2 separate regions of the Homo sapiens genome follow, and region 2 is linked to region 1. Evidence: fine-mapped expression QTL. Tissue or cell type: testis. Region 1 holds a variant in brackets; the other region holds the start of a gene. All regions are shown on one strand. Distances are between the middles of the regions.

The links. PIP is the estimated chance that this variant, and not a neighbour inherited with it, causes the effect.
Region 2: it holds the start of MYT1, and the variant in region 1 is fine-mapped to the expression of MYT1 in testis (GTEx, PIP 0.97).

Annotation. Positions count from the first base shown.
Region 1 is chr20:64,186,785-64,191,929 of GRCh38, reverse strand. MYT1 (myelin transcription factor 1) reads right to left here. Exons shown (of 23, transcript NM_004535.3): 2 at 1,770-1,867. Among named protein-coding and RNA genes, the nearest start is that of MYT1, 25 kb to the right of the region's middle. RefSeq lists enhancers at 2,263-3,200, 3,201-4,138. The variant T/G (reference allele first, on the strand shown) is at 2,623.
Region 2 is chr20:64,161,612-64,166,756 of GRCh38, reverse strand. It overlaps MYT1 (myelin transcription factor 1), which reads right to left and starts at 2,305. Exons shown (of 23, transcript NM_004535.3): 1 at 2,018-2,305. RefSeq lists an enhancer at 3,947-5,145.

The DNA of each region.
Region 1 (5,145 bases):
AGGATCTGGGGTAGGGTGAGGGGAATGAGGCCAAAAACTCAATGATCAAGATAAATAATATTTTAATTCAATATTTAGAAACATCAACATGATGCAAAAAACCCCTAATAAACAAGATACCAAAACCTTAAATAAAGACAGGATCCATATTACTGACTCTTCCTTGTGCCCCAGGCTCCAACATGGATCAGCAGAGCACTGATAATCCTGCGGGAGCCAAAATATGAGCGGAGGTGCTCAGCAAGTTGTCTATAACAGACCCATTAAAATGTACATTCTCGCCACCAGATTCAAAAGAAAAAGGTTGGGTTTTGAGAGTAAAACACAAGCACCCCCAAATGAAGTTCCCACTACAACTGCATAGCCCTCCTTGCCTACACCCTACGCCATCACTGTCCTTGAGCCATGCCCTGAGTCACAGCTGGATCCTTGCTGGAGAGCATCTACATGCAAAAAAGAAAAAAGAGAGGTCAGAATCGGATCTCTGGGAAGGGCTTCAGCCTAAGCCTATTGTCAGCCTCTACTTCCAGCTGTGAGGGTCACCTGACCCTGGGGACCTGGCCTCATCCAGAGAGTATTGGTGGGAAGTTCTAGAATTAGAGGGTTGGTGGTGGAGAACAGTGGCTGTAAGCACATGTGATGTCACAGTTCGGGAGTGTCCCCGAAGGGAGATCTTATACCCTGGGAAGGTATAAGAAGGGCTTGCACCATCTGCCTCCCCTTAGGAAGATCGAAATAAAACAAGGCCAACAGACTTCATAAGCTCCTGCCAGCAATCTCTGCTGTCAGATCCTGTAGGGATTCTCAGCCTGGCCAGGTAAAAGCAGGGTGAATAGAGAACAGTTGCTCAGGCCTATCACAGAGCCCAGACGTGGTCACACCTCAAAGCAAGGAAGTGAGACTCTGGGGTCACATTTTCATTTTGGTGGGTTTTTTTTGTTTGCTTGCTTGCTTGTTTTCTGAGATGGAGTCTTGCTCTGTCACCCAGGCTGGAGTGCAGTGGCACAATCTTGGGTCACTGCAACCTCTGCCTCCCAGGTTCAAGTGATTCTCCTGCCTCAGCCTCCCCAGTAGCTGGGATTACAGGCGCATGCCACCATGCCCGGCTAATTTTTGTGTTTTTAGTAAAGACGGGGTTTCACCATGTTGGCCAGGCTGGTCTTGAACTCTTGACCTCAAGTGATCCACCTGCCTCAGCCTCCCAAAGTGCTGGGATTAGAGATAAAAGCCACCATTCCTAGTCCCTTTACTTCTGAGATAAGATCTGCACCCAGGCTGGAGTGCAGTGGCACAATCTCAGCTCACTGCAGCCTTGACTTCCCAGGCTCAAGTGATCCTCCCACCTTAGCTGGGATCCTCCCCCAAATAGCTGGGATTACAGGCGCATGCCACCATGCCCGGCTAATTTTTGTGTTTTTAGTAAAGACGGGGTTTCACCATGTTGGCCAGGCTGGTCTTGAACTCTTGACCTCAAGTGATCCACCTGCCTCAGCCTCCCAAAGTGCTGGGATTACAGGTGTGAGCCACCGGGCCCAGCCTGGGGTCACATTTTAGTTTTGATCTACTCAGAGTCATTTTTCTTCCCTTAATTTTAAAGTGACCGGATCATTGCTGATCCTAGTCCCCATTTACCCTTCACCTAACCCGGACTCTGGTGAGGATCAGACCAAAAGTCGCCTCCATGCTTCATGCCTGCAGCTGAAGAGAGGCTTTGTGCAGGCAGCCATGGGGTGGGGCCCTACGACAGGGGCTGCCCTCTCACGTCTCACCTTGCAGTGTCTGCCCAGGTGTCTTGAGGTCCTGCAGCTGCTGGCCTTGCCTCCGTGTGTCCACCTCTGATTTAACAGCTCACCTCGGAACTCATTTTCTGAGGGTTTAAAAAGGTTCAAGGTCAGAAAAGGAAAGCTTGGTGGGTGCCAGCCGTGCTGGCTCAAGGGGAGAAAGTGAGAAACTTGAGGCACTTTTTTAACATCATATATTCAATGCCTATTTCCTGGAATCCACCGGAGAAACAGACAAGGTCATGGCTCCATGGCTGCTTCAGGAACAAGAGACAATTTCTCTCTGACTTGGGGCCTCCCTGGAGTCTTCCTGCAGTCCCCTGCACTGTTGTCCCAGCTCTAGGTGTTGGTTCCCACTGACAACCACGGCCAGCAGAGTGCTGGGACAAGGCAGCTGAGAGCCACCTTGAGAAAACTTGGCATGTCACCCCTCCAACTTTGAAAATGAGCTGACTAATGAGTAATTATTCGCATTACAACCAGATCCTTCTGCCCCTCAAAAGAATGCACAGTACATATGCATTTGAAAAAGAAGATTGTTTTGCACGACTTCTCTGGAGCCCATTGATTGAAGAAAGTGAGATCCACCCATGGTCTCAAATCAGCTTTGCCTCCCGCAGGATCCCGGGGGCCCCAGCATGCTCTTTGCCCTGGTTTCCAGCATCTTTTGTCACCCTGTGTTTCTGCCTCTCTCCAGGGCAATGCCTCCAGTTAATATTTAATTCCTCACATAAATTCCCATGTCTGAGCAGAGGCTGAACGCATCAGCTGGACATGACAAAGAAACGCATTGTGTACCTATTCCCTGCACGTCACTCCCCGTTTCCATGACAACCTGCTT[T/G]CTACATAACTGCAGCATTTCAAAGGAAGGTCATTAAGTAACCAACAATGAAACAGGAAATGAATATTCTCGTGTTGGGCCCTGGCTTTGCCTTGGAAGTGAGTTTGGATTCTGCCGAAGGCACGCTATTCCCACCCACTTTCTTTCTTTTCCTCGTGTTTTTGATGTGCATCCCCAAATGCAATTCTTCTCTAGGGTTCTGGCCACTCCTGGCCCCAGGCAGCCCTGTGCCTCTGGCCACAGCACCCTCTTCTTATCTGGAAATGCTTCCATCCCATTAAAGGGCTTCGGATTACCTTCCAGAGCATAAACACAGAGGAAAGCAGATTTGGTAGTCAAGGAGACAGCCTAATACGAGGTCTACAGAGGAACGAATAAAACCACTCAGATTCGGCACCTACTGTGTGCACCTACTCTGTGCCTCCCCTCATTGAGCTGTAAGTCACCCGCAGGCCGTCGCTGAGATGACAGGGCTCCCACCGCAGGCTCCGGTGCCTGGACTAGTGAGGAGGGAGCTGCGGGAGCTTCCCTATCACCCAAGATCTCTAGGCCTCCTGGGTTCCCATCTGCCACTGGTCATCTGCACTGAGCCGGTGTGAGCGGCCTCTAACTGGGGCCCACCTGCCCACCAGGTAATCCAATTCTCAACTCTGTGACAGGGATGTGGGGTATAGGGAGGAAAAGCATATTGGAAGATTCCGTAAGTGAATCGACAAGAATCGTATCAGCCGGGGAGTGTGCTTCACACTTTGAAGATGGGGCGTGGGGTCCTCTGTGTGTCTCTTTTCTTATGTGTCAACAGAAGCTGAGAGACAAGGCCCCAAAGTGCACAGGGTTCACTTTCTGAGTATCTATCCCAGGAGACAAGATGCTGCAGAAACCTGCTCACTGGGCTGATTGGCAAGGCTCAAGCAGAATTCCTTGTTACCATTACATATGTATATATGCAAGACAACTGGGGCATGTCTGGCTGACAGCTGGAGGGAAGGACATAAGGTCTGTGTGCTCCAGAGGAGACGCTGCCTCTCCCGAGTGCGACTCCCCTGAGTTCTGCGCTGAGTCTCTCCTGCTTCTCAGAGAAGTCATGTGGACATGAACTGCAAGAGTCTCTGCAAAGGGACCTCCAGTTTTGTTTGGTGGGAGATAACCAGCTCACTGGGGCTTCTCCACCCACACCCACCCATGGGAGTCTGGAAATACAGCCCTGTGGAATTCTTCGTTGCCCACATCCCTTACACTCCTGTCCCTAGGTCAGTCAGCCCTGGGCTCTGAAGTCCTGAGGCCCTGAGGCCCCACATCTGCTCAGGCAGAGCACTAGCATCCCGGGGATCAACTGCTCCTCCAAAGAGCCACTCCTGCCTCCCTGAGGCAGCAAAGCCGCTGAGCTTCTCTGGGCAAAAGAGCAGAATGGCACCCGGTGAAACCTGTGCACCATACCCCTGGGTACAGAGCACACAAGTAACCACAAACCCCCAAGCGTAGACCCTCCTTTACAAGGGCCTGAGGACCCGGCTCAACCTTGACATGATAGCCTCCCTCTCCTAGGAAATGTCTTGGCAGCAAACGGCTATCACTACTAGAAGCCCAGTAAGGTATGCCAGTTCTTCTCCTGTGGCCCTCTTGGTCCCCTACTGGGGCCTGTGTATGGCCAAACCCTGCCCCATGGGCTCAGTAGGCTCCACCCCAGACAAAGCTCTCCTGTCTGTAGGCTCTGCTCAATCAGCATCTCTAGCAGCACATTAAGTCCCCATGCACCCAAACAACATGCCGGGGCCACGTGCCACAGGAAAACTCTCCACGGAAACGTGGATGCCGGGGCCACAGGCTACAGGAAAAGTCTCCACGGAAACGTGGATGCCGGGGCCACGTGCCACAGGAAAACTCTCCACAGAAACGTGGATGCCGGGGCCACGTGCCACAGGAAAACTCTCCACGGAAACGTGGATGCCGGGGCCACAGGCTACAGGAAAACTCTCCACGGAAACGTGGATGCCGGAGCCACGTGCTACAGGAAAACTCTCCACGGAAACATGGATGCCGGGGCCACAGGCTACAGGAAAAGTCTCCATGGAAACGTGGATGCCGGGGCCACGGGCTACAGGAAAAGTCTCCACGGAAACGTGGATGCCGGGGCCATGGGCTACAGGAAAACTCTCCACGGAAACGTGGATGCCGGGGCCACGTGCCACAGGAAAACTCTCCACGGAAACATGGATGCCGGGGCCACGGGCTACAGGAAAAGTCTCCACGGAAACGTGGATGCCGGGGCCACGGGCTACAGGAAATCTCTCCACGGAAACGTGGATGCCGGGGCCACAGGCTACAGGAAAACTCTCCACGGAAACGTGGATGCCGGAGCCACGTGCTACAGGAAAACTCTCCACGGAAACATGGATGCCGGGGCCACGGGCTACAGGAAAAGTCTCCACGGAAACGTGGATGCCGGAGCCACGTGCTACAGGAAACTCTCCACGGAAACGTGGATGCCGGGGCCACAGGCTACAGGAAAAGTCTCCACGGAAA
Region 2 (5,145 bases), 25 kb after region 1:
GGGGTCATCTCAGAGAGTGTTTCCCCACTCATGCACCAGGGGCATTCAAGGGAGTAGGTGACCACTGCCTTTGCCAGAATCTTCCAAGAGGGGCCAGAGCATTAGCTCTGAACAACTGAGGCTACCTCCAGATCTGTGGGCAATGGCTGAGGGTCACAAAAACCCTCGAGTGGCACTTTGGACAGAAGCAGCCCCCCTGCCTCGGGTCTCTGAAGAGGGCTACCAGGCCCTCTTCAGGGATTCATGGCCCAAGGAGGTCAGAGCCGAGGCTGTTCCAGAGCAGAAAGGCCTCTTTGTCCAACTCTCTGTGGCTCCTGCTCAAGCTCCTGGATCAGCAAGTACCCCTGGGAAGTTCGGCAAACGTCCAGGTGCCCAGGGGGTCGGGGGGACCCTGTAGGAGTCTCAGTCTCTACGGGACAGAAGAATCCATAAGACTGCCTCCTTCTCTTTGAAAACAAACTGCCCTCTAAGCCCTGACCCAGCCTCCTCTGCACAAGGAACAGCTACCGAGGGAGACAGGGCAGGGTCCTGCCTCTACTGATAGCAGCACCCTGGCTGGTACCACAGGACTCCAATCCCTGCTCTCTTACTCTTTTGTTTACCGTTAATTAACAGGGCCATATGGAAGGAGGCGATAATCACAGCCAAGGACCAATGGGAGGGGAGCCCGGGGTGGCAGGGAGGCTGGGGGCCGAGGGGAGCCTCCCTCAGTCAGCCCTGTAGAGGATACAGCACCCCCACTCCCCAGGCCAGAGTGAGGCCAGGACAGGCTCTGCTGGCACCTCAGAGGAGACAGAGGCAGAGCATACCCCTCAGCACCGAGTGGGCCCCCCCAGGTCTGCCCCACATCCCTCCCACCTTTTGTGCACTCAGCCACTGGCGTTAGAGGTGTCCTCAGTTTTCTGTGATTTAAAAGAAAAAAAAAAACTGCAAGGGCAAAATTCTCCACCGACCTCTCCCAAAAGGATAATTATAATCATCGCTGCCATTATCATCATCGTGACAGAGTCCATGCCCAGGACCAAACCCACCTGCAGCCACGGAACCCCCCGCACCACCGCAAATGTTTGGTTTCCAAAATTAAACACCCAACTTTACCAGCCAATGGTGTCCACTGATTCAAAGGTGATGCTGAGACAAGCAAAGCCCTTGGTGACTCAGGAGGAGCAGTGAGAACCCACCACTCCAACACAAAGCCACCAGCACTTGTTTATTTTCCTGGTTTATAGAGAAGAAAGTGAATTCAATAGACAGAACCAAAGTCCACGGCCCCAGAACTACAGACAATGGCATTAGGGTGTTCAACTTCTTAGCTAACCCTGATTTTTAGTTTTAAATACAAAAATCCAGTTACACTACCACCATAAACAACCACACTCCACAGCTGCACGGACACGTAGCGAAAAAAGGGGCTGAGAGGAGCGGCCGATATTTACTTCTGCACATCTATCCCACAGACGCATGCACCCTAGATATTGATCCTTAAGTTGAGAAATGCATGACATGCAGACAAAACGTTCACGTGAGCACCTCTCCTCAGTACCTTGGGTGGGGGTCACACATGACACACCCCAGACTCTGAGACCCTGCTTCAGAGAGGTCTTCTGCTTAAGCGGCCAGTGCTCTCCCCAGGTACGGGGCTGCTGGGTCCCACGGCCACAGACATATCCGTTGTTCCTCTTCCAGAAATGCGCATAAAGTTTCTGGTTTTGATATGCGCTCCCCTTCCCCTAATGTCTCCTCTGTCAGACGCACAACATGTCCCCTGGAATCTCAGAGGAGCATGAACAACAGAGAGACAGGAGAAAAACAGCACACGGCAGGCCAGGGAGGAGAAGAAAGCCCCCGTCCTCCAGAGCAGTTTCAAAAAGCCATCCTCAGACCTGCTTTTCCTGCAAACAGAGCCTTCATCTTAGAAATTAACTCTGCCCGCGCGCCCTCTCCCTGTCTCTGTCCAAGAGGAAAAGCCAAGCGTTGGGTATCTGCCTTTGTCAGAAAGAACGTAACGTTGACTTACCTTTCCCCACAGCTATTGTCTGTCCTCTTTCAAAATGACATCACGGAAAGCAATCATGAAATTTACATGGGGGGTGCAGGGTGGACTGGGGGAGGAGAGGGAAGGCAGCTGCCTCCCGTACAGCGGTCACATGTGGGGAAGCCTGCGTGCGGGTTTCAATTAAATATCTTCTCCCCTTAGTGTGCGAACTCCTAAGCCAGCTAAAGGCGACGTCTCATTTACTTAATGACTGCTCTCATTAGCAGCGGTGGCACGGGCTGGCGGAGGAGGCTCCTTTGTAAATACGCTACCCATGAACCCTTGGGGCTCCAATATATCTGTTTACTCTCTGAGGTGAAATAAATTTACAGTATAGCATCAGAAAGATGGATCTGCTGAATTGGGGGTGAGAGGTGTCCCAGTCCGGTGGAGTCCTGTGTCCTGCTCTGAGCCTCGGCCAACAGAAGGTGCCTATGTTTGTCCACACTGATTCATACTCAATGTGCAGCATGATTGAGTTTTTTTAAAAAGCAAAACACACAAAAGGGCAGAGAGCATCACAACCACCACATTCACCCCCCTCTGCTTTCTCTGCCAGTGGTTCAGTCCAATAATTCCTAATAGCAGCAACCGGAATGACAGATGCCCCGGGTTAGCATGGCTACAGCGAAAGTACTTTACAATATTTATTGGTGGTGAGGAATATGATCTACCATCATAAAGAGCGGGCTGCAGAATTTATTACTCAAATGAACCAGGAATATTACATATCGGCTCATCTGCATATTCAAGTACCCCTGACTTAAATGGATATGTATTTTTTAACGGCATAAAAGGTAACTATAGCCACAGACCAAAAAATAGAGTCATGCACACAAAGAATAGATCAGGAAAAGACATTTTTCTGTTCTCACACTTTCCCTTTTCACTTTAATTTTTACAATAATAAAAACCTTCCCAAAGAGAACTCAGGGATTCCTGGGCATGGGAACCCCCCCACAAAAAGACTAAGTTTATTGCAACCAGAGCGAAGCACACTGCCCAAGTTTTCTGCTCTTTTCCTGATTCTTTTATAAACGGCCTGAAAGGAGCTATCCAGTGAAAATCAAGAAGAGAAAAATCCATAACACACACAATAGAAGTGCTCACCCACTCTCTATGCAGCCTGACTGTCTGCCTTCTCATCTGCCAGTTTGTGATATTTTCCCCCACATTCAGGGATAAAGTGGGAATTTCTTCAGTAAGAGAACTCAAGAGCCAGAGTATTCTTGTTTGCGGCCCAAATCTCCTTCTTGTACTGATAAATCAGGCAAACGATTGTCCATTATCATAATCAGGATGTTAGAAATGAAACTGTGAAACACAAGGGTGAAAACTCAATGTGAGACGCCTGCAAAGATGCCGCCGTCCAAGGGCAGCTGGAGAAGCAGAAAACTCACATCTCAGAAGTTCAGTGCAGAGATTTCAACAGACAGTAAACATCATTTCTTGGTAAATTATGCAAGAGCACAATACCCCAACTTAATTAGCGCTAAAGGGCTCGGGCCACCAAAAGTGTGACTGAGGCAGAACTGAACACAGCTTTCTCTAAGAGAGCATGTTTTGAAAATCTTAGTGGCTTATTTTTAACATACAGTTTGTGCTTTACACGTTACATACAAACCAAAAGCTTCACCCCAAAGGCAAGTATCTTAGATTCTTATACGCACACATTATCCTCAACAAATAAAACACAAAATGCACACAGAGCAATTGTTCAGATTGAGCACAAGGACATAAATGCAAGCCTGCACTGGTCAAACTGAGGATGAAATATTAATTAGTCAAATGAGAACAGTTCGAGGTTTCCACAATGACTGCCTACCATTTTTAATTTCTGTCATAAACTTATATCCATTAGTATAAAAGGACACATTCAGCTGAGAGCACTCCTGAAAAGCCGTTTCTGTCTCCTCTGGACATGCTGTGAGTGCTAGGATGTCTTACACCCCAAACCTTCGGCATTCAGAAATTCTATTAAACTCTTATCGGCAGGCTGCAGGCTCCGGGCAGGCTTGCGGGCCATTGTTCCATGATGAATACAGAATCAAAGGGAGGGCCGTTGCTGAATCAGCCTTATTTCCCAACGACACCCAAGGTTTCATGAAAGCGACTTAATTCAGATATGCAACAGTCACACCTAAGAAACCACAGCGAAGCGGAGGTGGCAGCAGGAGAGATGAACCTGCGCAACACGGGCTTCGTGGGGCACAACAGTTTTTTCAGGTAATAGAAATTGTATTTGTGAAAACGTAAGTCTTTCGGCATTTCTCACTTCCCCTTTTGAACAATCACAGGCCTCCTGAGGTGTGGCGCTCCGGGGGTCGGGAATGGGCCCCCAGACCCTCTGTGGCGCTGCCAGGAGGAGCATTCAGAATGTGCCTGGAAACTTGAAATCGGTGCCTGCTGGCAGGACCTAGGGCGCCCTGGGAGCTCCCACCGGGAGGTTAAAGTGCTATGAGCAGTTTCCGAAGATGAGCTTTGATGAGTAAAGGTTCGAAGTCTTTAGCTGACCCCGTCAAGACAAAGGAGTCCAGGGAAAAGAGCAGGACAGAAGAGCGGCCGCCGGCACGTCTCTCCGGTTCGGCTGCCGCCCTTCAGCCCCTGGGAGGCGGCCTGAGCGGTGGGTGGATCCGAAGTCTGATCAGCACTTCGGACAGCGCTCTCCCCCCAGAGCGCCTCAGTCTTTGTTCTCCGCACACGGAAGCTTCTGAGCTCGCACCAGTATTCAGCTATCGCTGAACTCTGGGCTCCGGGCTGAGACAGAGAATTCCAAACCCCAACAGATCCCTGCTTGTAAGTGACAACAGCAAGGTATAGTCTTAAGCTTCCTTTCTTAGAGAGGGTGAAAATTTGTCAGGACTTTTTGAAATCATAAAATATTTTCTCTTCCATAACTGAGCATGTTGCACGCTGTTCCTTTGGGTTTTATTTCATAAAAGTCTGTGGGAAAGTCACATGTGACTTTTTAATAATATGTTTGGAAAGATCCACCAGGAAATAACTCCTGTCTGACTGGCGGGTCCTCAGACTCCACACGGGGAGGGAAACGGGAGATTTGCAAAACCAAACTTACGCCGCAGCCGCACTCGCTGAGAAAGCGCTTTGTG